Regions from separate parts of the Homo sapiens genome. Here all the other regions are linked to region 7. The links come from fine-mapping of genetic effects on gene expression. A gene starts in region 7. Each other region holds a variant in brackets. All regions are shown on one strand. Distances are between the middles of the regions.

Region 1 (4,069 bases), 580 kb after region 7:
ACCTTTAAAAAAATATGTCAAATGACACAGATAAGACAAGCAGAAAGGAAAAAACTACATTTGTTCTTTCAGCATTACATATATGAGTACTTGCTCCTTGGGATAGAATTTCCAGGGCAGCTTCATACACAGATTCAAAAATCACTAAATCTCAGAAGTATTTGGCTTTGAATAAAAAAAAAAAGAAAGAATGAATAAATAAATTTCAAACAACACAGACAATGACCTATTCTTAAAAACTCAAATGAGGCCGGGTGTAGTGACTCACGCCTGTAATCCCAGCACTTTGGGAGGCCAAGGCGGGTGGATTGCTTGAGCCCAGGAGTTCAAGACCAGCTGGTCAACATGGTGAAACCCAGTCTCTACTAAAAATACAAAAATTGGCTGGGCATGGTGGTGCACGCCTATAATCCCAGCTGCTTGGGAGGCTAGGCATGAGAATCACTTGAACTTGGGAGGCAGAGGTTGCAGTGAGCCAAGATTGCATCACTGCACTACAACCTGGGTGACAGAGCAAGAGTCTGTCTCAGAAAATAAAACCAAAAAACTGTCAAATGATTCAAAAAGTGGTTCCAGTTAAGAGTAAACTACTGATGTCAAAGAGGTATATAAAATTTAATAAAATTACTTTATAAATTGTGACAGTGGAAGAGCAATACTTCTAATTATTATTTTATATAATATATATAGTTTTAAATATGAACATGTAACTAAATTAAAAATTAAAGCTAGACAGTGATCCATATTATTTACATCTATACAAATTTATTTATTAAAGTTGGCCCTCTTCAAAATTTAAAAAAGTATTTTCTCATTGGCATAATGGAAGAATCACCTATTATCTGTGGCCACCTTAAACAATTTCAATGTGTTATCACACAGCTTAAAGTATAATATGAAGAAAATATTTTAAATACTTTCAGACTAAATGCAGTTTAGCTTGAAAGCTAAAGACAAATTACATGTTTTACAAGGGTGTACCAAAGTAGACAAAACAATCAAAGAATTTAAAAAAAGAGGAAAAAAATTAAAAAATTTTTAATAAAAAGTTTTAAAAAGATGAATTACAAAATACTTTATAGCAAAAATTAGAATGCAGAATAACAAAACTACTATTTAAACTATTTTGTTCCTATTTTACCTTCACCTATTGTCATTATCTTTACAAGAAATAAACTGATATGAGCCTGGTCTTTAACAACCTGTTGAAAACTTATAGTACCATTGATTTCAATATTTCTTGTACATTACTTAATATTTAGAAAGCCAAAGAACTTACATGTTGGTCTTTCAATTCCCCCTGACATCCATAACAAAATCTGAAAAAAAAGTTTAACAATGTTTTTTCTTAGAATTTACTCATTAAAATAGTTCAACAAAATCTCACTAACTAGAATCCTTTAATTAATATGTACTTGTCTTTACACATGACTTTCAGGAAAAAGAGTTAAGAATACCAATAGGCCAGGCACAGTGGCTCACGCCTATAATCCCAGCACTTTGGGAGGCCGAGGCAGGTGGATCACCTCAGGTCAGGAGTTCGTGACCAGCCTGGCCAACATGGCGAAACCCCGTCTCTACTAAAAATACAAAAATTAGCTGGGCGTGATGGCAGGCGCCTATAATCCCAGCTACTCAGGAGGCTGACGCAGGAGAATCGCTTGAACCCAGGACACGGAGGTTGCAGTGAGCCGAGATGGTGTCATTGCACTCCACACTGAGCAACGGGAGCAAAACTCTGACTCACAAAAAAAAAAAAAAAAAAAGAATAGCAATAATTTAAAAAAAAATTCCACAGTATATACAAGGTCATCTGACAGCCCAAAATTTAGTTTTTATTTTCATTAAGGTTAACTGTGAGCATGCTTTATTTTTCTTTGTTTTCGAGTCAGGGTCTTGCTTTGTCTCAAAGGCTGGAGTGCTGAGGTGCTATCACAGCTCACTGCAGCCTCAACCTCCTGGGCTCAAGTGATCCTCCTGCCTCAGCCTCCTGAGTAGCTGGGACTACAGGCATGTATCTCCATGCCTGGCTAATTTTTTATTGAGGCAGGGTCTCGCTATATTGCCCAGGCTGGTCTCGAATGCCTGGGCTCAAGCAATCCTCCTATCTTGGCTTCCCAAAGTGTTAGGATTACAGGCATGAGCCACCATGCCCAGCCAGAAGCACTTTCTAACGTTTGTTTGATAGTCACTTATTCTAATAAGTGCTACTTTGTGATTCTTCACAGTTATTGGCTATAAATCTCCAACTATGAAAGAAGAGAATTTAATTATCTTTCAATCATCTTGAACCCAGTAATGCATAAATATTTAACTAGTGTCATTCTCAATTCTTTCTACATAGTGAAGTCTTCCTTTTGGATAGAACAATAATCAATGTTTAGTTTACTATGCCTATAAAAATATTCTCAGCTAAG[C/T]CATAAGTTTTCCCCTATTTAAAACATTTTTTTTTTTCCTGGAAATACTGTGTTGCTATTCCCAAGGTTAGTTTCCTATATAATTGACACTAATTCAGGCCCAATCTTCTCCGGAATAGTCTAACTGTCCTCTCGATATGTTCAAATACATCAGGAGTTCTGCAGTTTTCATCCCCTTGGTGATCTCTCTCCTGGAGCATCCTGACTGTCTCCAAACTGGACGGTTCCCCATATGTGACACACAGGTATCATTCTGGAATTTCTCCTTACCATCATCCTAGGCCGTTCTTCAGCCTGTTTTGAATTAGATACATATTACTAGATCCCATGTCATTCTCCTTCTCAGTTCCTTTGAATCACCTACCTCTTCCAGACCTTCCCCAGAAAAATCTCTTTTTGAGACCTTACAAGTCTGAAAATGTCTTTATTCTACCTACACTTAACTGACAGTTTGGCTGGGTATCTAAGTTGGTAACAATTTTCACCACAAACTTTGAAGGTGACTGCTCCCTCTCTGCATCCGGTGTTGCTAATGAGAAGCCAAACAATTTTAATTCCAGATCCTTTGTGTGTGACCTAGTTTTTCCTCTCTGGAAATGTTTAGGGTTAATGGTTTATTGTGTATTCTGAAATTTCACAATTATGGGGTCTGCCTTCCTTCAATACGTTAGGCACTTGGCAGTCCCTTTCTTTTATCTTCGTTGCAGAGATGAGGTCTTGCTGTGTGACCCAGGCTGGCCTGGAACTCCTGGCCTCAAGTGATCCCCCAGTCTCAGCCTCCCAAAGTGCAAGGATTAGAGCTATGAGCCACCCTTCCCAGCCAACAGGCCCTTTCAATCTAGAAAGTTCTGTCCTTCAATATAAAATTTCTTTGAACTATGTCTTTGATGATTTTCTATCCTACTTTTTTTCTTTTTTTCTCGTATCATTCTCATTGGACCTTCTGGATAATTCCACCAGTATTCTTATCTTTACTCTCCTATTTGAACCTCTTTATTTTACTCCTTTTATTGTACTTTCTGGAATATTTCTTCAACTCTATCTTCTATAGTACTGGGTTTTTCATTTTTACTATATTTAACCTCAACCATAAGCAAATAAATACCAAGCTAAAACAATGAGACTTTTTTCTTTTTCTTTTGCCTGTGAGTTTTGGCCAATATAAAAAAGTTTCATAATACCTAATGTTGGCTAAATGTGCGAAAACAATAAATGAAAGTTCTTTGAAGAACAACTTTACAATATCTATCAAAATTCACAAAACATGTAAAACTCTTGACTCAGTAATTTTACCTCTAGGAATTTACCATGCATTTATACTTGTACAAATGTTCAAAAATATAGATATAAGCATTATTTGTTAATAGCAAAAAAAAAAAATCTTAAATATCCAACAGGAAGCAATTGATTATATAAACCATAATTATACCTGAAATATGCAACAATTTCAAAAACAACATTGATCTAGATATGGTGATACTGAATGACTTCTAAATGATTTAAGTGTGAAAAGCAAGATGGATACATAATTGTTTTCGGCTAGCCAGTAAGTGTTTAATGTGACTCCTAAATCCTGGATGTTCTTTTTTTTTTTGATGGAGTTTCGCTCTTGTCGCCCAGCTGGAGTGCAATGGTGTGATCTTGGCTCACTG
Region 2 (4,069 bases), 520 kb before region 7:
AATGATAAATAAGATCTCCACAACAATAACAACTAACATTGGTGAATGGTTTGTTCAATCAATGCTACTTAGTTCATAAATCACTTTTCCTCCTAGCAAAAACAGTTTCACTCATTCGTTACCTCATGTCACCCCTTTCTTCGGTATTCACTGATTTGACCAATATGGGAGCTGGCAGTAAAGGGTTTGGCATGAACTGTGCAGTGGCATCAGTAAATTCTTCTACTGCATTGGCTGGGATTTCCACCAGAGTTAAAATAAAGGCTTGTTCATCTTCTCCATCTTGAGGTACATTAGCAACTAGATTCACTATCAAAGTTTAAAAGTTAGTAATAAAAAAGCTCAACTATGAAATAACAGAGTATCATTAATTTATTTCATTTCTAAAAAGACAGTCTCAGGACAACTTATCATCAAGACTAAATAAATAAATGCTCCCCCCAACAACCCCCCAGCCTGAGGAAGTAAGTTCCCTCCTTTTTTGCGGGGGGGAGACAGAGTCTCGCTCTGTCGCCCGGGCTGAAATACAGTGGCACAATCTCGGCTCACTGCAACCTCCGCCTCCTGGGTTCAAGCGATTCTTGTGCCTCAGTCTCCCAAGTAGATGGGATTACAGGTGCATGCCACCGTGCCTGGCTAGTTTTGTATTTTTAGTAGAGATGGTGTTTCACCATGTTGGCCAGGCTGGTCTCGAACTCCTGGCCTCAAGTGATCTACCCACCTCCGCCTCCCAAAGTGAGCCACCATGACTGGCCCAAGAAGTAATTTCATAAAGGATAAAGGTGATATACTAGGGAGAAGATTTATGACTCTGAAAAACAAAACTGATACACAAAATACTTCAAGGTGTTTCTATAAAACGTTTTAAATTTAAGGCCAGCATAGACTAAAATACAACTGTTTTATGTTTTTCCATAGTTAAATAAGGGGTAAAAATCATACAACTAAGTTCTATGACATGTCACTGAAGCATATTATCATACCTGTTAGGTCTTGAGGATTGATTATATTCTCTTGTTGGACTTCTGGAATACTTGTTGGTGTATACTGCCATAAAAAATTAAAATGAAAGAGTCAGGTTGGCCAAATCTTACATTTAAAAAGTTATTCCTGTCAATATGATATAGTGAAGAGATTAACTCAACAACATCTAACCATATACAGTTTTCAAGTGTTTGAAGCTTTAGGCTGTTCCAATAAACTTTTGATTCATTTAAATAAATATTAATACAAAGAATCCTGACTACATTGTTAAATATGTGCATTTTATGAAATGATTTTTGAAGTGACAGGATAGGGAGACCCAAACCCCACAACTTTTTCTCTACTCCCATCACACCAGCCATTGTACTATTAGTAGGTGACATCTGAATGAAGGCAAACTGCTTTCCCTGCATGCAGTATGGTTCCCTCCTGTTTTCCAAAAAACCACAAACATGGTTTTTCTAAAATGCAATCCTGACTGTAATTCTCTACTGCTTAAAATCTCTCAGCTCACCACAACCTCCGCCTCCTGGGCTCAAGCGATCCTCCCACCTCAACCTCCTGAGTAGCTGGGAGTACAGATGCACGCCACCACACCTGGCTAATTTTTTTGTATTTTTCAAGGGTAGAGATGGGGTTTTGCCATGTTGCCCAGGCTGGTCTCAAACTCCTGGGCTCAAGTGATCCACCCACCTA[G/C]GCCTCCCAAAGTGCTGGGATTATAGGTGTAAGACACTATGCCGGGCTTCTACTGCTTAAAATCTTTTATTATTTTATTTATTTATTTATTTTTTTGAGACAGTCTCGCTCTGTCGCCAGGCTGGAGTGCAGTGGCACAATCTCGGCTCACTGCAACCTCCGCCCCTCTGCCTCCTGGGTCCGAGCAATTCTCCTGCCTCAGTCTCCTGAGTAGCTGGGACTACAGGCACACACCACCATGCCCAGCTAATTTTTGTATTTTTAGTAGAGACAGAGTTTCACCATGTTGGCCAGGATGATCTCAATTTCTTGACCTCATGATCCACCCGCCTCAGCCTCCCAAAGAGCTGGAATACAGGTGTGAGCCACTGCGCCTGGCCTGCTTAAAATCTTAAAACTTTCATTTTGTAACCAACAATGTCAGTAACTGATTAAGGCAGGAATCATCAGTGGATATTAAAACTACAGGGTAACAGCTTGCTGCGTTGGTCTCATTTGACAAGTTACTAATACAGAATGGAAAAGATGCCATTATAATGAAGAAATCTGGTAGGTACCATTCTAGCCAAGTGATCAGTCAGCATCACCAATAATGGGACAAACTGACATTATGTGTCTCCCGATGTGATATAAAAGGAAGAACACATTATTACCTATATAGTAATCTTGCCCTAAAATATGTAAGTTGAATCTAGTAATGAGGAAGCAATTAAAAAAAAGAAATCCAGACTGTAGGCCAGCCTAGACTGGTCTAAACTTCTCTTGCTTTTTCTCTTTTGTGAACAAAAAGACAAGAAAAATACTCTAGATTAAAGGAAAATAAGGAGAAAGGATAATCAAATGCAATGTGAGAGCCCTGATTGGATCTTGAATTTAAGAAAAATAAAAAAAAAGCTGGCCAGGCGTGGTGGCTCACACCTGTAATCCCAGCACTTTGGGAGGCTGAGGTGGGCAGATCATTTGAGGCCAGGAGCTCAAGACCAGCCTGGCCAACATAGTGAAACCCCATCTCTACTAAAAATATTATACGAAAAAATTAGTCAGGTGTGGTGGGACACACCTTTAATCCCAGCTACTTGGGAGGCTGAGGCACAAGAATCACTTGAGCCTGGGAGGCAGAGGTTGCAGTGAGCTGAGATCGTGCCACTGCACTCCAGCCTGGGTGACAGAGTAAGACTCTGTCTCAAAAAGAAAAAAAGCTATAATGGACATGATTGGGACAACTAGGGAAACTGGAATGAAACTGTATATTACATATTGTTGAGACAATGTTAAATAGTGTAGTAATACTGAGTGTGACAACAGTACTGTCCTTTCTCTGTAAGAGAACTTCCTTGTCCTTATTAGATACAAGATGAGGTATTTATGGACTCAACCTACTTTCAAATGATTCAGTTTTTTGGTTTTTTTTTTTTTTTTTTTTTTTTTTTTGAGACAGAGTCTTGTTCTGTCGCCCAGGCTGGAGTACAATGGCACGATCTTTGGCCACTGCAACCTCTGTCTCCTGGGTTCAAGCAATTCTCACACCTCAGCCTCCCAAGTAGCTGGGATTACAGGTGCATGCCACCACGACTGGCTAATTTTTGTATTTTTGTAGTGATGGGGTTTCACCTTGTTTGCCAGGCTGTTCTTGAACTCCTGACCTCAGGTGATCTGCCCACCTCGGCCTCCCAAAGTACTGGGATTACAGGCGTGAGCTACCCCACCCAGCCAAGTATTTATCTATACAGATGGAGAGCAAGACAGAGTAAAAAAACAAATGAGGCAAAATATTGACAATTAATGAATCAAAGTGAAGTGTATGGGATAATTCTTTGTAAGATTTTTGTAACTTCTAAGTTTAAAATTTTTCAAAATAAAAAGTAAAAATTAAAAAGTCAGGGTGGGGTAAGGAATCTCGTAACTTTAAATGTAACCAAACTCCTTAGCAAGTCATAAAAATCCTTTTATGATCTGTCTGCAGGCTATCTTTCTAAGTTCATCTCTAATCACTTTCTTCATTAATATTCCACTCATACTGCTTACATGCTGTTTCATACTGGTTTGTTCTTGGAAACAGGGTCTCACTCTGTCTCCCAGGCTGGAGTGCATGGCGACCACAGCTCACTGCAGCCTCTACCTCCCAGGCTGAAACGATCCTCCCACTTCAGCCTCCTGAGTAGCTGGGACTACAGGCAAATGCCACCATGCCTGGCTTTTTTTTTTTTTAATGGCATTAAAAGTGTGAGCCACTGCAACCGGTCCACACCTGTTCTTTACACACACGTTCCTCTCCCTTTAACTGGATAATGTATACATGTTCTTCAAGTCCAAGGCTTCTCTCACTTGGGGAACTTTTTATGGAACTGTTCATGTATTGGTTACATGACTGCATAGTTATAAAAACCTG
Region 3 (4,069 bases), 340 kb before region 7:
GCAGGTCTATTCCAAACTCTCTGTGCTCTCAATCACTTCAGAACATTTTATTTTTTTCCTCCATCAGACTCCCCTCCTCATTTCCTCCTCCTAACTAAACTGGTACATCCCTCAAGCAGGTGCTTCCACTCAACAGTGGAAGGAGGTTGTAGCACTTTCAATCAAGGCCTTCCATCTATATATCTATGTTTATCTATACCTGTATCTATGATCTATCTAATTAGAAATAGAGACAGAGAGGGAGGTGAGGAGATTGAAATAGTAGTATAAAAAAAGAAGTTCCCAAAGGCAAAATATCCTATAAAGACTTTGCAGGCCCTCCATGGAGATACATGTTTTAAATTTTTATAAGGAAGAACTTAAGTTTTCCTTTCCATAAGTTTTTGCCTCCTAATCGTGCCCACTGCTGTGTAAGAAAAAGGGGGCACATTACAGTGCCTTTCAAAACAACCCAGCTCCCCTTGGCTAGTAGATCTGAGGTTGCAGTATTTCTTTACCTTGGGCCAGATTAAATACTTAGGCAAGACTCTCTACCAACCAAACATTTCTGTAAATTGAGAGGGAGCTATAGATGAATGTATCCTTCCTTAGGTCTGGATAATCTGAGAATACTTCCTTCAGGTTCATGTAGCAGAAAGAATAATACTTCCATTCTACCTAAAGAGTTTCTTGCAACTGAGATTTGCCTATTGACAGTGGGTGCAAAGCTGAGAGAAAAGAGCCACATTCAGGATGTGGCTATCTCTCAACAAGGAACAAGGTGACCTAGAATAGTAGGAGTGGAGCCATTTAATCACTCAGGAAATAAATTTTGCCATTCCAGTTCTAAAACTCTAAGAGCATTTTTCGACAGGCATGTGGGAAGTAGAATACTGATACCAATAGCTAAAATCAATCTATCTTATCCCAGCAACTATGGAGCCAAGTTGGGTTAGGACTATGGTCAGAGATAAACAATTAAGTCTGCAGAGCCTAACTAGGTAACTAATTGGTGAAGATGCATTTTGTAAGCTGTGACAGTTGTGTCTAAATCATTGAAAAAGTATGTTTCATCTACAATTGGTAGCCAATGCCGAATTCCAGATGTTTGATTTCCTAGTTTTCTTAGAGATAGTGATTTTTAAAATGTTTATGTAGAAGCTGACAGTTAGACATATCTATACATAGAGTCGTACCTGAATGTTCATAGCAGCTTTAATATTAGCCCCAACCTGGAAAAACCCCAAATTTCCCTCAAAATTATAATGGATAAAATGGATAAATTCAATGAACATTATTCCTAAAATGAAATACACTAAGCAATAATAAGGAGCTGACCACTGATGTACTCAATAAGAACAAATTTCAAAAAACAAGATGCTGAGATAAAGAAGACAGAAACAAAATAATGCACATGTATGATGTCACTTATACAAAATTTAGAAAAGATATATCCTGTACATAATGACAGAACCTCCATCAGTGGTTGCCTGTGATCAGGGATTGAGATGGTGAGGGCATGTGAGAAGTTTTCATATATGATGGAAATGTGCAGGGGATATACAATTGTCAATATGCATCAAACTGTCTAATTTAATATATGTTTTATTGTATATGATAAATTGATTTTCTAAAAATCATATACACTAACTCAAACTTCTTATAGCTGAACACATTTTATATTAGGTGTTTATCTTATATTTACAGATGATGTCTAGTAAGCCTCAGAGATGTCCAGTGGGATCTGGGATTTGAACCCATGTCTATTTCAATTTGTCCTCTCATTCCCTTTTTACACTCAGCTTTTCTTTTAACATGCTCACATTTTCCCTACGACTACAAAATGAAAATAAACAGAACCTTTATTTTTAAGCTCTTATCCTACTTTGCTTCTTCTGTGCAAATGTTTTAAAATAATAGTTGA[C/T]ATTTATTCCTTCTACTTCCATACCTCATCCATCTCTTGCATTCTAATGTCCATCGCCCGCTTACTGAAATAGAGAAAAAAGTCACGATCATCCAGCACTGCCAGTGATTCTCAACTTTTTAAGTAATTGACTTTGTGTGTTTCTTCAGAACACTTTCTCCTCTTAAGATTTCTGGTTCCCTTTTATGTCTCCCACTGCCTTTCCATCATCTTTTTGTTTGACTCTTTAAACTCCTCCCTTTTTCCTTTTTTCCCATGGTCTCTTCAAATATATCTAAACTAATGCGTTCTGCATACTTATTTTGAGTCTTTTTGTGAGGTCTAGTCCAACTGGCAAAATATGGTATCTCAATTTCCTACCATAAACTCATCATATCTCAAATTTAAATTTCTCATCTTTCTTCATGCAAAACACCTTGAACCTCAATTTAAACTTCATCATATTCTTCAATTTCTTCTCCCTTTGTTTTATTACACAGCTTATTTTGGCAAAATCCTAGGGTATTTTAATGTGTTTTTCATGTGCATCACCTCTCCATATATTTACAATTGTTCTGGCAAAAGTTTATATTGATAATTAGTCTTAGTGATTATAATTATGCCCTACTTTTGCTTTCTGTAATTCATCCTACACACTGTTGCTAAGTAATAATACCACTAAATCACAGCTCAGAATATATATTTTATTGCCTGCTGGTTTTCTATATCTATGAGAACACTTATTTCGAATGAAACAAAAACGATTAAACACGTAAAGCTGGAGCACTGAAAAGCACCAGGCATGCTAAGGGCCAGGGATAGACAGATGAAAGAGCATGCCCGCTATCTTTGTCTTAACATTCAAAGACCCGTTAATTTCCATTTCAACATGCACTTTTTGTCAATTTTGTTTTCCACAGATTACTTTCAAGCATCCTTTGAAATAAACCCACTAAGATCATTTTGCCCAGAGCTTGCCCGTTTTGTACCTCTGCTGAGATTTTTCTCATTTCCTGGAATTATGACAATATTAAGCATAACTGTAAAAATTCTAAGTATCATTTGTATAGCGTAATAGTAGATCCAGTCCAACACTGCCTAGAAACTTGCACACACCATTGCATTTCACCCTCGCAACAATTCCATGTGGTTGGTTCAGCTATGTCTACTTCACAGATGAAGATATGGAAACTCAGAGGTGTTACATAACTTGCTTCCATCACACAAGTCACAAAATCAAGCCAGTCTGTCACCTAAGAAACCCTAACCCTTCTCACTTTAATACACTACCTTTATTATCCTACATTTAATTTATTTTTTATACAACTTTGCTCATGACAATCTTTGTTCCTTTAGTTGGAAGTTTTTATTCCTCAATTTCCCAAGGGGAAGATTTTACAGGTTAAACATTTTTGTCACTTGTCACTTAGCAACTTAACATTCTAGTCATTTATGCACAAGTTACTATCTCTACAAAACGTGAACAATTTGAAGATGAAAAATTATGTATTATATATCTTAAATCCATCCCACTGTAGTTCTTTACAGAGAGACAGTACTCAGTAAATATTTATAAGAATCATGACATGCAAATGTGCATATTCTCTCTTATTAGAATATAATTTAGAAAATGTACTTGACAAATGAAAAGTAGCATCAGATTATTCTTGTTCAAAATATTCCTCCTTGGTAAACACTAATACCTGGACTAATTTTTGAAGACTGTACTTCTCAGTGGGGGAGAAGAATTGGGAAAAATTCTTTAGTGTGAGAATATCTTAGGGGAACAGCTATAGTTTTAAAAAATACTGCTTTGTTTTATTCCAGTTATTTCTCTTTTATCAAAATTTTAAATTTGTATTTATAGTTGATATAAAAGGATATGTATCTTGAGAGATCGTGTGTCAAAATAATTGAAGGACATTTTTTGTCATTTGTGTGAAATAGAAGAAGTGTTTTATTTCTTCTTCTATGTGTTTTATTTCACACATTTGTGTGAAATAGAAGAAAATGATACCTGTGTGTGATAGAAATAAGTTTATATCCTATGAGCAGGTAACAAAAAAGAAAAAAAAAACTAGCTGGACTTTTTCTCTTAGGATTATATTTTCTTTGGATGACAATGATAAAAGTTCTCTTTACTATGTAAATTTGCCAGTCTAAGAATAGAGTGTATTATCTTACTGA
Region 4 (4,069 bases), 350 kb before region 7:
GCTTTTCTTCTGAAAAGATGATATGGACCAACAGGTCCATATCAAAAAAAGAATCAGACTTGCCAGCAACGTTGGTAGACTCTTCCCAGCATACATCTGAGTGCTGAAGGAAGAAGAAAGTTTAAATTGTTTAAAGGACTATAATTATCACACAAAATTTATTAAGAAAAAAGAATAATGGATCTAGTATAACTAATTCTGAGTAAACCAAAATGATAAGAACTAATTAAACACTTCTTAATCCCACATTTTTGGCAGGTGTAATTGAGCCATGGTCGTATTTGATTTTGTTATGATTGCATCCAAATTTGCTTAAACTCAGAGTTATGTTTAATGGTAGGATGTAAGAACTGAATTTTGAAAAACTACTCACTGTCAAAATCTCTCCTTCCTATAGGAAATTTAGCTGAGTTTTCTTCATCCCCAGTTTCTCTCTTTTCTAGTGTTGATTCGGTATCCTGAACCCCATTCTCAGCTGGAAAAGCTACAGATCCTTCTAGTGCAAGATAAGGTTTTATAACCAGATTCAGTGACAGACCATGATTTAAGAAATTATGTTTTTTCTTTGTTTTTTGTGACAGCATAATCCCATTGTTCTACTACCCTAGCAGTTCCTCCCTAGACAATGAGGCCAATACCCCTTCCTCTACTTCATATAGGCTTTCTTTTTTTACTCTATACTGTAATCCTGAATGCTTTCATGCATCTCATGGCTTTCATTATCATTTCTACTTTGATAAGTCCCAAAATGATATCTTCTGTTTATATTCAACTTTAGAATGCCAGACCTGTCATCTCTAGCTGCCTATCTCAGAGGCACCTTAAATTCAACCTGTTCAAAGATCATCTTGTGCCTTAACCCAGATTCACTGCTTCTCCAATGTTCCCTGTTCCAGTTTATAGCAACACCATCCTCAGTTTCTCATTCCAAAAGCCCAGGAGTAATGTGTAAGTAATAGATTCTGGAACCAAACCACCCTATGGCCGTACAACTTTGGGCAAGTTATTTATTAACCCTTTGATTTACTTTCCTCATCGATGATGTTTGAGTAATAATAGCACCTACTTCTTATGGTTATTGTGCAAATTAAATCTACTAATACATGTGAGAAACTTAATGATTAGTACCTAGCAAGTGCATTATGAGTGTTAACTATTGCTTTTCCTCTTATATTTTTTAACTTTTATCTTCTTTGCCTCAGACCCACAATCAGTGAATCGATAAATTCTCCTATTTTTAACTCCAAAATATTTTTCAATTCTATTCTGTTTGTTTTCACCATCTTGGCCAAGTCCACCATCATGTTCTAATTGCAGATCTACTCATATTGCTGCCTTGCTTATGGCTTCACAGTATTCTCATGGAAAAAAACCCAAAAGATTCGGTAATATAAAATCCTTGCTGGCCAGCCTGGCTTTAGAATACTTCTTCTTTCAGAATGTGTTTCCACCACCTCCTCCTCTCTAAGGCTTCTACTCCACACACCTTCCAGTCTCACTAAAGAACTAAGGATGCTCTTCTCTCCTAATGAAGTTGTGTTTACTTCTCAGGTCTCAACTTACATACAAATTTTTCCAGAGAATTTCCTGAAACACTCACCTCTCTCACTAGACTAACTTGCTCCAACTACTCACATAGATAGTATAACACTTATCATTCTAATTAAGTAATAATGTGTGGCTTTTTTATTCACATCTGTCTCAAAGGTAGGGACAGTGAGAGAGAATCATGCCATTCAAATAGAAGTTTTATTCTCAGCATCCAGCACATCAATTCACCATAGTAGAAGCTCAGTGAGTATCTGTCCAATTAATGAATAAATGTTGAGCACTGTAAGCTACGCTTATGGATACCATAGTTTAGTAAGGAAGCAGAGAGTTGGCAAAAATAAATTTGAGAAGTATGATAATGGATACATTAAAAAGTGCCTTGTTGTCCACTGGGAGGAAAGGTTTTAATTTAATCTGAGTT[G/C]ATAAAGAAGGCCTACATAAGGAAGCTTTGTGATTTCAGGCTGAGGATAACAGTGAACAGGAGTTGGCTCTGTGAAGGACCTGAAATGTGAGGAGGACAGACTGAGAGAAGATCACCTGCAAACTCTCTGAAGCAGATGGTGTAGTCTGTGTAGCACTAGAATGCAGATGTCCACTTCACATGATGGTGTGAGTTTGCACAGGGCCATTTCCTTGGTGACCTGTGTGTCCTAAATCCAAGGGGACTCTCCCAGAACATTCTGTTGTGATAAAGATTCTTGGGATTTTCTGATTCCTGAGATGGGAAGAACTTAGTTCATGTAATGGCAAGTTGGGGGCTCAGGATATGATTCAATTTTAATAAAAACAATAACAGCAATAAATAAATGTGTCAATATTTGCTGTAAGTTTATAGACTAAAATTCTTAGTTTATACATATGCAGCCACAAATACACATACACACATGCACAGAGGCAGTTGTGAAAAAACACATACAAATATACAGGATTGGATGAATGCGAAAGGAAACTTACTTCTCTTTTTACTTTATACACTTTTAAATGTATACATTTCTCTGTTGTTTGAAATTATTGTGTGGCATTCTTTTGGCATTACTTATGTAATCAAAACTCTCAAAAGCTAAGTAAAAATTAAGTAGAAATACATTTCAAATTTAGCCAGTAGCTTGTCTAGTATGTCTGACTTAAGTTGACTTTATGGTATGAAAAATGTGCCTTTTTTTAGCTGAGAAATCATCACACTTAGGTATACCTTGGAGAAAGGTAATATGGGACAATAGCACTCGGCAAATTTATGATGAGCTATTGTTTGTATAATTTTTAATCACTCATATTTAAGACTTGATTTTCTATGCTGATACTAACATGGGATTTCTCTGCTTCAAGCCATCTAAATTAGCTATGCAAAGGGGTGAAAGTTCCCGGGATTTGTTTGGCAACACGTTTCTGAAAGGCCGTTTGGTGCAGCTGCCTTCCATTTGTTTCATCAAGAGACTAAGCTAAACTAAAGTAGTTCTTCATGATGAACTGGCAGGAAAGTGCCAAGATAGTTTTATTGCTTAGCAACTTGGCAGGAGGAAATGTTAAAATATTACAATCTCTCGTATCTATGAACTGAGACAGGCTTTCAACTGATGGCTCTCCAGCTCGAACGTGATTAAGATGCAGCCACATGGCCCGGGCTTATATTTTGAGCTGATAGGAGGAAGATAGGGAAGTTGGATACTTTTAAATGTATAAATAGTAATTTCTCAGAAAACATTTGCTGATCTGAGCCAAATGCTAATCTGAGGAATTAAGCTGTCTCCGTTGTGATGTTGATAAGTACTGCAACCCCTATTGATCAATGGGATTTCCTTTGCATTTCAGAAGGAAGGATACGTCTATTGAGAAATTGCACGCCAAGTAAAATCCTGAGATAAACAACTTCATACAAGAGAAACTGACAGTTTACCATACATTTTTGGAATTTAAAGAGTTGTTGTGGTGTGCTTTCTTTTTGTGCAAATTATGGAATAGATGAAAGTGACAGAGTGATGACACCACCTAAATGGAAGCATAATGTAGACGGTTATTGCAGATGCCTTACCACACAGCTCTGCCAGCGCACATGCTTCCTGCAAACCTCCTGCAATTTAAACCCTTGGGCTCCTTCAACTAATGACGCTAATTTGCCAATGGAGCAATGGCTTTCTTCGCTAAACACTCACCTACAAAGGAGTATGTATTAGCCGACAATGTATGTGCTCAGTAAAAACTGGCAATATAACATGCACATTTTAAATATAAAGACCACTTTCATCACTACATTAAATCATAGGGATTGATTTAATAAATCACAGTGTAAATAACTCTCCAGAATTATTACTATTATTTTTAATAAAGGTAATATTTGGGGGAAAATTATATGGTACTAAATTTTTCCAAAAAATCAAATTATTGGGAGAAAAGTTATAAGAGTACCTGGTTCCCTGTTTTGTCTTAAAGGATTTCGGTTCATAATTGAATTTATATTAAGCATGAACAGCAGTTTGCAATTGACATTGTTTCATTCAAAGCTAGTATCTTCATGTACATT
Region 5 (4,069 bases), 590 kb before region 7:
TGTTTGCTGCTGCTATAACAGAATACCCAAGACTGAGTAATTTATAAAGAAAAGAAATTTGGCCTGGCATAGTGGCTCATGCTTATAATCCCAATGCTTTGGGAAGCTGAGGTGGGAGGATAACTTAAGCCAGGAGTTCAAGACCAGCCTGAGCAGCAAGACTTCACCTCTACAAAAAGAAAGAGAAAGAAAGAAAGGAAGGAAGGAAGGAAGGAAGGAAGGAAGGAAGGAAGGAAGGAAGGAAGGAAGGAAGGAAGAAGGAAAGAAGGAAAGAAAGAAAGAATTTAAAAAAGAAATTTACTTTTCACGGTTCTGGAAGCTGGGAAATCCAAGAGCATGGCACTGGCATCTGACAGTCATCCCATGGTGGAACAGCAGAAGGTGGGAGGGCAAGAGAGGGCAAGTGTGTGTGAGACAGAGAGCAAACGAAGGCCAAACTCCCACAATGATAGCATTAATCCATCCATGAGGGCAGAGCTCTCATGACCTAATTACCTCCCAAAGGTGCCACCATTTAACATCACCACAATGGCAATCACATTTCCAACACATAAACTTTTGGGGGACACATTTAAACTGCACCACTGGGAAAATAAAAGAAGAACATTGCAAAGATCATCATGTCATCAGGCCTCAGATATGGAGAAGGCCCAGAGAAGGCATTCTCATGACATGAGACTCAAAGAAAGACCACCAGACACCCACACATCAACTCTTTAAACTCCAGAAACGATTAAGGGGTCTTAAAATCTGCCATGAAGGAAAGATGAAACAGAAGAGAACATAAAAGTAAGTACCTAGTTTAACTATCTTTTCTCCTTGAGAGCAAAAGAAAATGTTGAAACCTGGAAGGTCTATAGTAATCTGTCCACATTTTTATAGCAGCAAAGATACAGAAAACGATACGGGTATGATTGCCAATAGACATACTCTTTGAAATAACTAGGTAAATGAATTTACAATGGGCAAGGCTAGTAACATTAAATAAAAACCAACCTTGGAGAGAAAAACAACTAAATTTGAGTAAGGAAGCTGGTGCTTACTATCGAAATAAATACATAACATAATTGAAGTTAGAAGTGATTAACTTATATAATAAACATAAGGAATTGTTTTATCAGTCTGTCTAAACCAAAGTCTTAAATAAACAACAAAACAAACATTAAACTTAGGAAACAGAACCACTCAATATCTATCATATTACAACTTTAATAGTTATAAGGAGATTTATCTTTTAATAAATATTAAGTAAGTACCATCTCAGGGAAATGTGTGAGGATATAAAAATTCATCTAAATTGTCCCTATTCTCAAGTAGCTAACAGACTAGTAGAGGAAATTAGTCCAGATATATCTAGATTAAAGGGATAAATGCTATTAGTAAGGCACAGTACAAGAACTATGGGAGCTAGGAGGAAGAAAATATTACTTCCAGTAAAGGATTCCGGGATTTCCTTAAAAGGGTGGCATTTGAGATGTGTCTTGGAAGATGGGTTGGAGACTCCGACCCAGGAGGATGAGGGGAAAGAGGACCAGCATGGGCCTGAGCAGATGGTCAAAAAAGGCTATGGTATATATGGAGACCAGTGACTGCATCAGGTTGACTGCAGTTTAGGGTCCAGGAGCAATAAGGCTAGAAAGTTAGGTTGAAATCCGATCACACGGGGGCTTAAGTATCGGGCTAAGAAGTATGAGCTTTGTTTTGTAGCAAATAGTAA[C/T]AGGAGGGCCACATAAAGAATAACCTTGCAGCATGTGTCCACTGTATGGGAAAGGATAGACTAGGCAGACAGGGACACCAGGCAGGTGAGGCTAGAGCCACAGTCTAGTGGTAACAAAGGCCTGAGCTGCCTCTGGGGGTGATAGTAGGAACAGAGTGGAGAGGAACTGCCCAAGGGTGAAACCAACAGGACTCATCAATATATTAGGCAAAGGCTTAGGATGTGTTCACTTTGTGCCCGGCATCAGAGCAACTGCCAGGGATACAAAAATGTCAAAGATGTATATTTTTGACCTAAAAGGATTAAGTAAGGGAAAATGCAGAGAAAAGAGCCAAGGATGACATCAAGTCCTAGGGAAAGAGCAAGGTAGTGCTAGCAGTAGATGGGAACTCAGGTGAGGGAACAAATGAGTAGGGGAAGTTAATGTGTTCAATGTCTAGTTTGAACCTAAGTCTGAAAAGACAGAGGAAAAAGTGTTTTTCCTACTGTCTGACACAGTCACTCAATACCTCTGACACCAGATATGTGGGGGTATTTCTCCACACACCAAGCAGTTCTCCAGCAGACACCAGCTGTCCTCTAATCCAATTCAGTTCTTACAGTCTACCTAGAGACAGCATCAGATCCCACAGACTAAGGGCTCAGTCCTACAAGATGGCCCTCACTTCAGATGCCAATCCACAAGGAGCAGGTTGTCACCTATATTTCTGATTGACTGTAAATCAGGGCTGCCACTACCCATCCTTGGGTTTGACTAATTTACAAGAGTGGCCCACAGAACTCAGGGAAACACTTTACTTACATTTACTGGTTAGGAAGGATATCATAAAGGATACAGATGAACAGCCAGATGAAAAGATACATAAGGCGAGTCTGCAAAGGTCCTGAGGGCTGGAGCTTCTGTCCCCGCGGAGTGGGAATGCACCACCTTCCTAGCACTTGGATGAGTTTGCCAGCACAGATGCTCTCTGAACACCATTTAGGGATTTTTATGGAGGCTTCATCACAGAGGCATGGTCAATTATTAACTCAATCCCCAGCCCCTCTCCCTCCCTGAAGGATAGGGCTGGGACTGAAAGCTCCAAGTTTATGGTCATGGCTTGGTCTTTCTGGTGACCAGCACCATCCAGGAGCCCACTAAGAGTCGCCTCATCAGAATAAAAGATGCTCCTATCACCCAGGAAATTCCAAGGGATTTTGGAGCTCTGTGACAAGAATGGGGGTCAAAGACCAAATCATAGAACAAAAGATTCTTCTAGTACCCCTATCTACAAGGGTATTAGGAACTCTGTCGGAGGAACTGGGGCAGACACCAAATATTGGAACAAAAGAGCCTCCTAGTGCCCCTACTGCTCAGAAACTTATGAGGATTTTAGGAGCTCTGTTCCTGGAACTGGGGACAGAGATCAATGTGTATATTTCTTATTATTTCATACTAAGGTACCAGCAGGAAATTGACTGAGAAAGCAGAACCCCCGAGGTTCAAAAGTAGAGATGTAGAGGTGGTCAAGACTAGATAAAGATCAGGGAGATGACAGGTAATGAGATCTGGCTAAATCGTTAAAATAAATAAATAAATAAGGGCACCCCAGTGGCATGAAGCATAAGGAGAATTTCACGAAAAGGAAAAAAATGATGATACCAAGAGGCTGTGCAGAGTGGGAATCTGGTCTCTAGGCTGGTGAAACTCTCGTAGGGCATGGAGGTTTGAAGGAGTGAGCAGTTAGAATGAAGACAATGTGCCAATCCTTAAGAATGTTGGCTGGGCGCGGTGGCTCACGCCTATAATCCTAGCACTCTGGGAGGTCGAGGTGGGTGGGTCACCTTAGGTCAGGAGTTCAAGGCCAGCCTGGCCAACATATGGAAACCTCATCTCTATTAAAAATACAAAAAAGTTAGTCAGGCATGGTGGTGCATGCCTGTAGTCCCTGCTACTAGGGAGGCTGAGGCAGGAGAATTGCTTGAACCCAGGAGGTGGAGGTTGCAGTGAGCCGAGATCGTGCCACTGCACTCCAACCTGGATGACACAGTGAGACTCCATCTCAAAGGGGGAAAAAAATGTAGCCACCCAGGTAGGGAGAAAAGCTTCAAAAACAGCAGAAGCTAGAAAAGGTCTTTATCTTTTGGCATCATTTTAGTGTTCTTTTTTTGTTTCCTTTAAAGAAAAGGTATCAACGTGATTTTGGGGTGTGAGAAGAAAAATAAGCAGATAAAAAATTTTTTCATTTTTAAAAGATGGGGTCTGGGCTGGGCACAGTGGCTCATACCTGTAATCCCAGCACTTTGGGAGACCAATGCGGGCAGATCACTTGACCTCAGGAGTTCGAGACCAGCCTGGGCAACATAGTAAAA
Region 6 (4,069 bases), 300 kb before region 7:
ACAAGTGAGAGGAAAAAAACATAGTTTGTGCATCTGTTTTGTGATAAATATAGTAGTTAGATCTATTTTATATAAATTTTCTCATTAAACCCACATCAAACTTTTTCTCCTGCATTTTTTAAATGGAAAATGTGAGGTTGATAGGAGTTAATTAACTCTACTAATAGCTGACGGTAATGAAACTATCATTACTGAGAACTATAGTTGGTTTTTACAATTATTTCATTTTTTGTTGGTTTGTTTTTGTTTTTGTTTTTTGAGATGGAGTTTCGTTCTTGTTGCCCAAGCTGGAGTGCAATGGCGTGATCTCAGCTCACTGCAACCTCTGCCTCTTGGATTCAAGTGATTCTCCTGCCTCAGCCTCCTGAGTAGCTGGGATTACAGGCACGTGCCACCACGCCCAGCTAATTTTGTATTTTTGGTAGAAATGGGGTTTCTCCATGTTTGTCAGGCTGGTCTCGAACTCCCAACCTCAGGTGATCCACCCACCTCCGCCTCCTAACGTGCTGGGATTACGGGTATGAACCAGCATGCCCGGCCAATCTATATCTTTTAAGTGTGAAATGCTTTCAGAAAAATATTTCAACCAAAAGGGAGAAATGTGGAAGTTGTGAGCACCAAAATGGAGTCACTTACATCAAACCATAAAAAAATGAAGCTGGGAGGCCATGAAAGAGGGGCCTTCATGTACATATGTCTATAATAAGAACTGCTGCAATGGTTCTCTCAAAAACCACGAAAATGTTAGATATGATAATTCTATGAAGACATCTCTCCAGCAACAGCCAATATTATCAATGAGTATTTGCCAACTCTTGTAACAAGCTTCTCTGGCCCATGAGGTTTATTACAAAACTTACATAAAATTTCTCTTTTAAGATTTTTGCCTTCCTGATATGGTTTAGATTTGTGTCCCCACCCAAATCTCATGTCGAATTGTAATCCCCAATGTTGGAGGAGGGGCTTGGTGAGAGGCGATTGGATCATGGGGGTGGATTTCCTCCTTGCTGTTCTTGTGATAGTGAGTTCTCATGAGACCTGCTTGTTGAAAAGTGTGTGGTATTTCCCCTTTGCCCTCTTCCCCCTGCTTCGGCCATGTAAGACGTGCCTCCTTCCTTTTTGCCTTCTGCCATCATTGTAAGTTTCCTGAGGCCTCCTCCAATCATGTTTCCTGTACAGCCTATGAAATCATGAGTCAATTAAACCTCTTTTCTTTATAAATTACCAAGTCTCAGGTAGTTCTTTGTGCTAGAACAAACTAATACAGTCCCTCAGCTTCTTTGGTGCCTAAGGTCCACCATAGCATGTGTATTTCAAATTGCAATTTACTGCTATTTCCTGAATACACTCTTTATTTTAGAGAGTCAGTATCTCTGTTGTTTAAGTTGACATAATCTAATGTCAGAAGCAAGATGCAAAGGCTCCAAGCCTTCTTTGTTACTTACAGTTACAGCACTGTTATCCAAACAGTAACAAAGAAAGCCTTTGGAAGGCTTTCAAGTATCTGGCGATACTTGAAATTGTGTATGATACTCACCTGAGCCTATTGTGATCTTCACTTGTACAAGTTGTCTTTATGCTGCGAGATAAGTCCTCTCTTGGTTTGAGCTCCCACCTTTTCAGTGAACTCTTACATTTTGGGGGATCTGCTCTTGTAAAGGACATCCTTTCTGGTGAGTATTCTTTTGGTTTAATTTTTGGTTTGGTTATTTGTGCATGAATTTAATCTCATTAGGAAACAAGTTAAGTTGAATAGACCAACTAGTGAATTAATCCGTCTCCAAAATATACGTTTTTGGCATTTACCTGTTTATTTTGAAACTCTTTGTAAGAAATGTAAACCTGTAATGATAATCTCTGCTTTGTAAGGATATCTCCCTCTCTGACACCTAAAACACTAGATGCTTTCACAAAGCAAAAGGAAGAGACCTAAATCTATCTATCTGTGTAAACTCACCCTTGACCATTTCATTTTGAAGGCTTCCTATATATGCTTTTTTTCATCTCAACAAATAGTGGTGTTTAAGTTCTGTACCTTTGAGATTTAAATTTTCTACATTCCTTCACCTAAAAATCATCTCTTTGGAAGTACAAATTTTGGGTGGCCTAACTAACACTTGTTTATGGGCCAATTGAA[C/T]AGATCATTAAAAGACAGATAGTCTGAAAGAGGGAGTAAAACTACTTGCAAGCCAGGCAAATAACAATTCTTAATGCAAGTTGTAAGTTCTTCCTCTGTCTGTATTTTTCTACGTGTGTGTGTGTGTGTGCGTATGTACAATTTTTTCTACCAAAATTCATAAACGGCTCTACTTAATTGGCTTACAGAGAAAACATAAGTGTTTAAACTAAGAATTCTCTCAGAAAAACAGAAACTCAATTGCCTTTTGGCTTATGTGACGAAATAATCTTTGGCAGACAAAGCTAGTTTTAAAATTTGTTGGCAAAATAAAAACAAATATTTTCAGAATTGTCAGCATTAATTACAATGTACAGATACAGTTTTTAAACCTAAAGTTACTGGTGAAACAAGCTTGCTATTACTGAGATGTATAATGAATGTCTTAAAGCTATAAATCCACTCATCCTTGTGTTTAAGGAGGAACTGAAGCACAATTGTTAAGAACAAGTGAATTAGGTGAATATAAATTGACAAAAGGTTGATAATAAAGTTGTCAGAATTTCAAAAATAATTTAGTGTGACTTGAAATCTTAAAATCATGTTATATTAAATTAAGTAACACTTTACTGATTTAATATTTGAGTCATTTCTAAGGAAAATACTGAAATATCAATTGCTTAACAGAAGTTTAAAATATACGTAATTTGGCATCTTGGTTTCACATGTTATGGAAAAGCTAAACATATTTGGGCCTGTTAATTAAAGGCATAAAAATTATTTTATGAGATGGTGTTCATCTGCAAAATACTAACATGATGCACTTCAAAATGCTTACTAATTTTCACTAGAAATTAAGGTTACTAAGAGTTAATTAAAATTAATATTAGAGTAATTTAAACTAGAAATAATGAAGGGAAACAAATCTGTACGTGAGGGAAGGAAAACACATACAGAAAGTTATAAGTAAGAGGTTGTGTTTTTGTTAAGGGAAAAAGAGAGTATTTTTTGTCTAAAAGTAGAATGTCTTACTGTTCCAAAAAGAAAAAGAGAAAAAATATAGACAAAAACTGAATAAGATAACTGGATGACAAATTTATAGAAAGTTTGTGGAAGATTAATCTTGTGAAAAGAATTTTATGTGTGACCAAGTTGGCTAAAGTTAAAAGGAAATTATTTATAAATATTCTGAAAACTTGAGCATTATTATCAAAAGTACAGGAATGGAAAACTTGAAATTTGTCCCCTGTGCTGAAACAACAAGCTTTTCTTTGAGTATTGACCTGCTCTTAATAGACAATAGTGAAATGTTTTCTCTACCTTTTAGATAACTGGCCTAATAAACCAAGATTTTTTGTTTATCAAGGTAATTTCTTATGCTTTATGCTCTCTTTTACTAGGTCTTTGATTACTTGAGAAAAGTGAGTGAGGTGGGGCCAAGATGGTTGACTAGAAGCAGCTAGTGTGTGCCACTCTCACAAATAGCAGGAAGAGTGGTGAGACACTAGCTCTTCAACCGGAACATCCAGGTGGACACATAAGGATTCATCAGTGACATAGTGTGACCTTCGGATCACGGAGAAGAGTGAGACAGATCAACCATTCACCCAGGAGTGGCACAGACCCAGGGGAATCCCCCTACAAGAAAATGGTGAGTGAGTGAGAGTCCCGTGGGATGCATATTTCTGCCACGAACCTTTGAATCCCTGGGCTCAGGAGATACCCCAGCTGGGGTCTCCAGACCAAAACAGAGAGCCATGTGGAGTCTGGGTAGAGCTGCTTCTTAGGTAGGTGTGGAGTCCCAGTAGCATTTGTTCCCTGGGTACCCCAAAACCAGGGGCTGCAGCTCCAGCAATTGGGAAGGCCAAGTTTTCTTGCACGCTCCCCAGAAAAGGGGCCAAGTCCATGGGGCTGAGCAGTGATAGACTGCAGACCTCACCACCACTGAACCTT
Region 7 (4,069 bases):
GTTGCTCCATATCCTCAACTAACAGTTGATATTGTACAATACAAATGTTAACTTTTAGAATATCTTCACAACTTTAGAGTAGATAGTGATTTCTTAGGACACAAAAACTATCAATCATAACAAAAATTAAAATTGGACTTCATCAAAATTAAAAACTTCTTTTTGAAAGACACCATTAAGAAAATGAAAAGATGGTTAACAGACTGAGAGAATATATGTGCAATGTAAATATCTAACAAAGGACTAGTATGCAAAATATATAAAGAATCCTTATAATTTAGTAATAAAAAGGAAAACACGCAATTTTTAAATGGGTCAAGAATTTAATTACGGCCAGGTGCAGTGGCTCACACCTGTAATCTCAGCACTTTGGGAGGCCGAGGTGGGTGGATCACGAGGTCAGGGGTTCGAGACCAGCCTGGCTAACATGGTGAAACCCTGTCTCTACTAAAAATACAAAAATTAGCTGGGCGTGGTGGTGGGCGCCTGTAATCCCAGCTACTCGGGAGGCTGAGGCAGGGGAATCGCTTGAACCCAGGAGGCGGAGGTTGCAGTGAGCTGAGATTGTGCCACTGCACTCCAGCCTGGGCGGCAGAGCGAGACTCTGTCTTTTAAAAAAAAAGAAAAATATTTAATTACCTTACCAAAGAAGATACATGAATGACCAATAAGCCATTAAATTAAAACTTCAGTGAGTATACACATATGCCCTGAAGTAGCTAAACTTTAAAACACTGCCCTATGTGTGTGTACTTTTTAGCTAAAAAAGTGTTTGAAAACAGTATTATTTTGAAACTCAAAATTCCAAATCCTCTCTTCAAATTAGGTAGTAGTGTCACTGGAAGTAAAAGAGAAGTTACTTTAACTGCTAAAGAGTATCCACTAAGAATCTACATCAAACATCATGTTTAATGCTCAAACTTTAGAAGAATTTATACCAAAAGTCAAGAATAAGATAGGATATCTATCTTCATTATTAAGCAACATTATATTAGAGGACCTAATCAATGCAACAAGGCAATAAATAAAAGACAAAACTGTCATAATCAGATACTACAAACATCTAAGAAAATTCAGGGGGATTTACAGTCATATATTAAACAGTCCAGAAGGAGTCCTATACATCATCAATGAATATTGAGAATAAAAAATAGTTTTTAAAACCCCTCCAATTTATAAGGGCAACAAAATGTACAAGGTACTAAAATAAATGTAATGTGTATTTGGGTATAAATACAGCAACATAATGAAAAGGTTTATTGGGGAAAAAATTACAGGGAGAAGGGTCAACAACGTGAAGAGGTTCCCCTGCCATCTGGACTTCTGGAAAAAGACCTGCTGGTCTAGGCACAGCTGGATGCACCATGGAAAGTGGTTCCAATAAACACTGGCACTGTAACAATTGTGTATGTTGATACAAAAAGAGGGAGCCAATGAATACTTGGTCGATTATTTAACAATTGCTTCTCTGCTGAAGAAATGGCCTTGTTGGACTAGAGCTTAACTGTGGTTCACATACTAATGCTGCTATAACAGCTAGAAGCCTTACTAAGAAATTTGCTAAACCACCAAAAAGAGGAAATGAACCTTCTAGGATATCTGGATTGCCTTTTCTTAAAAATCTAGTCTTGGCTGGGTGCTGTGGTTCACGCCTGTAATCCCAGCATTTGGTGAGGCCGAAGTGGGCGGATCACGAGGTCAAGAGATCGAGACCATCCTGGTCAACATGGTGAAACCCTGTCTCTACTGAAAATACAAAAATTAGCTGGGCGAGGTGGCATGTGCCTGTAGTCCCAGCTGCTGGGGAGGCTGAGGAAGGAGAATCACTTGAACCCAGGAGGCTGGGTTTGCAGTGAGCTGAGATCACGCCATTGCACTCCAGCCTGGCAACAGAGCAAGACTCAGTCTAAAAAAAAAAAAAATATATCTAGTCTGTATGGCAGCACAACATCAGGTAAAAGTACAGACTAGCCAGATCACTGGTTAACCTTAACCCCTATGTGCTTGAGTTTCCTTATCTGTAATATGGAGATGATATAGCAATAGCTGATTTTGGACTGTTAAAGGAATTAAGTGGACACATGTAAAGTGCTTAGAATTGTGCCTGGCAAGTAGTAGGCTGCAATATTGTGATATAATAAATATATATATTTGATCTTCATCCAGTTCCTGGCACAGATCTCCAGAAACCCTTGTAATTTCCTGAGTGACAGGGGTGATAGAAACATCTTTTATTAGAATACTTGGTCTTGGTTCCTGACACAAGAGCTTCTAAGACCTTTGGAATCTCCAAGTGATAAGAGTGTATGACAGTGAGCTAACTGGTGGCTGGGATCCTTTAGACAACTTCAGGATGGGGGCTATCCCCTGAAAGACTAAGGCATGATTAGAGGTCTGGGATTTGCAGCCCCACGCCTCGACCTCCAGAGAGGGTAAAAGGGCTGGAGATTGATTAACCACCAGTTGCCAGTGATTTAACCAATCATGCCTAAGTGATGGCACCTCCATTAAAAAATAAACCACAGGTTTGGAGAGCTTTCGGTTTGGTTAACCCCAACCACATACCAAGAAGGCGATGCACCTCAAACTGCATGAAGACAAAAGGTCCTGTGCTCACCTGGGACCCTTCTGGACGTTGCCCTGTGTACCTCTTCGACTGCCTGTTCATCTGTATCCTTTATAATAAAGCAGTAAACATAAGTAAAGTTTCTGAGTTCTGTGAGCCATTATAAGAAACGATCGAACCTGGGATTTTCCTTTCGGAAGCCGCTCTCTCTCACAAGGGAGAGAGCTGTTCTCCTTTTTCTTTTGCGTGTTAAACCTCCGCTCCTAAACCCACTCTTCGTGTGTATCGTGTCCTTAACCTTGTTGGTGCGAGACGACGAACCCCGGGTATTGACCCCAGACAACAATGCCACTTCATATTGGGGACTTCGTCTGGGATTCCAAGGTGCATTCATTGCAAAGGTGAGTAAAGGGGCGGACCTCAACTCTGTCCTTTGATTTCGAGGCTCTTGGCCTCCATTTTAGAATCAAACCAAACCAAATACTGGGCCCCCTTCTGCTTCTGTGAATGAGAAAACTCTGCCTTCACCAATTAGCCATTTAAAAATTATGAGCGTGGCTGCCAGCCTTACAAGTTTTGGGGGACAGGCTTGCTGGGGAGAACATGGAGAACCCCCCAATACCCACGGGCTGCTGGGCATATTGGCCATGTTTGAACCAGTTTCCTTTCACGGAGGACCAAGCTGTCGTGTGGGGCTGGAAGAGGTCCTGGAGCAACTGAGGATTTCTGGCTGGGGCTACCTCCTGGTGCCATCCGAAGGCTTCTGGACTGACCCCAGCCTCCGGCCACCCTAAGGGGTGTCGGCAACAGGACCTCCAACTTTCCTATCATAATTCCCTCATTTCCTATCCACGACCACCATGTCTCCTAACCTCTCTCTGTATGCAGTACTGAGGGAGTTTTACAGTTCAGGGAAGTAATCTTGTTAGGCAAGAACAAAGACTGCTGTAGTAACCAGGGATATAGCACAGGGGCATGCTGTTGTGATTTTCTAGGAACAGAGGGTCTCCTCTCCCACCACAGTGAGCGTCACTCTCTGCCCTTGCTCTGGAAAGCACATGGCATGTCAAGGTCACTCTGCCCTTTGTCATAGTAAGATTAGGGTGGGGCGCCCAACCTTCCCCGCGTGCTATGTAAACGTCACACCTGTTCAAACCAACCTGTGGGCTCTGCGCAAATCAGACGCCGCCTCCTCAGGCCTACCTATAAAATCTGGTGCAGTCCACCGCAGGCCGGATTTTCCTTTCGGAAGCCCCTCACAAGGGAGAGATCTGTTCTCGTTTTTCTTTCTTTTGCCTATTAAACCTCTGCTCCTAAACTCCCCCAACCCCCAAGAAAGAAATTATCGAACCTGAGGGGGTTGCAGATACCCATGATTTGTAGTGAACTCAGACAGAAGTGTGGGTACCCTGAGGTCCTAATAGTTGTGGCTGGCATCTGAAGTAGGGGGCAGTCTTGGGGGCTGAGCCCCTAACCCGTGGGGTCTGCACTAACTCTGGTTAA

What was found. PIP is the estimated chance that this variant, and not a neighbour inherited with it, causes the effect.
Region 1: its variant is fine-mapped to the expression of NAIP in whole blood (GTEx, PIP above 0.99). The same link has a PIP of 0.9 or more in aorta, lung, spleen, subcutaneous fat, tibial nerve and visceral fat.
Region 2: its variant is fine-mapped to the expression of NAIP in whole blood (TOPMed, PIP above 0.99). The same link has a PIP of 0.9 or more in lung and monocytes.
Region 3: its variant is fine-mapped to the expression of NAIP in whole blood (TOPMed, PIP above 0.99).
Region 4: its variant is fine-mapped to the expression of NAIP in whole blood (TOPMed, PIP above 0.99).
Region 5: its variant is fine-mapped to the expression of NAIP in whole blood (TOPMed, PIP above 0.99).
Region 6: its variant is fine-mapped to the expression of NAIP in whole blood (INTERVAL, PIP above 0.99).

What each region holds. Positions count from the first base shown.
Region 1 is chr5:70,442,733-70,446,801 of GRCh38, reverse strand. It overlaps the pseudogene GTF2H2B. Among named protein-coding and RNA genes, the nearest start is that of SMN2, 400 kb to the right of the region's middle. The variant C/T (reference allele first, on the strand shown) is at 2,418.
Region 2 is chr5:71,545,660-71,549,728 of GRCh38, reverse strand. It overlaps BDP1 (BDP1 general transcription factor IIIB subunit), which reads right to left. Exons shown (of 39, transcript NM_018429.3): 33 at 984-1,047; 34 at 123-309. Among named protein-coding and RNA genes, the nearest start is that of MCCC2, 40 kb to the left of the region's middle. The variant G/C (reference allele first, on the strand shown) is at 1,681.
Region 3 is chr5:71,361,701-71,365,769 of GRCh38, reverse strand. The region is part of intron 2 of LINC02197 (long intergenic non-protein coding RNA 2197); the gene reads left to right. Among named protein-coding and RNA genes, the nearest start is that of LINC02197, 83 kb to the left of the region's middle. The variant C/T (reference allele first, on the strand shown) is at 1,904.
Region 4 is chr5:71,372,321-71,376,389 of GRCh38, reverse strand. All of the region lies in intron 2 of LINC02197 (long intergenic non-protein coding RNA 2197), which reads left to right. It overlaps LOC105379025 (a long non-coding RNA gene), which reads left to right. Exons shown (of 2, transcript XR_001742723.2): 1 at 1-948; 2 at 2,012-2,354. It also overlaps the pseudogene PMCHL2. Among named protein-coding and RNA genes, the nearest start is that of LINC02197, 72 kb to the left of the region's middle. The variant G/C (reference allele first, on the strand shown) is at 1,973.
Region 5 is chr5:71,614,677-71,618,745 of GRCh38, reverse strand. All of the region lies in intron 6 of MCCC2 (methylcrotonyl-CoA carboxylase subunit 2), which reads right to left. Among named protein-coding and RNA genes, the nearest start is that of MCCC2, 29 kb to the right of the region's middle. The variant C/T (reference allele first, on the strand shown) is at 1,718.
Region 6 is chr5:71,320,863-71,324,931 of GRCh38, reverse strand. LINC02197 (long intergenic non-protein coding RNA 2197) reads left to right here. Exons shown (of 3, transcript NR_134269.1): 3 at 3,517-3,901. Among named protein-coding and RNA genes, the nearest start is that of LINC02197, 120 kb to the left of the region's middle. The variant C/T (reference allele first, on the strand shown) is at 2,138.
Region 7 is chr5:71,023,216-71,027,284 of GRCh38, reverse strand. NAIP (NLR family apoptosis inhibitory protein) reads left to right here and starts at 1,946. Exons shown (of 17, transcript NM_004536.3): 1 at 1,946-2,670; 2 at 2,879-2,967. RefSeq lists cis regulatory regions at 353-1,817, 2,183-2,396 and promoters at 1,818-2,182, 1,587-4,069.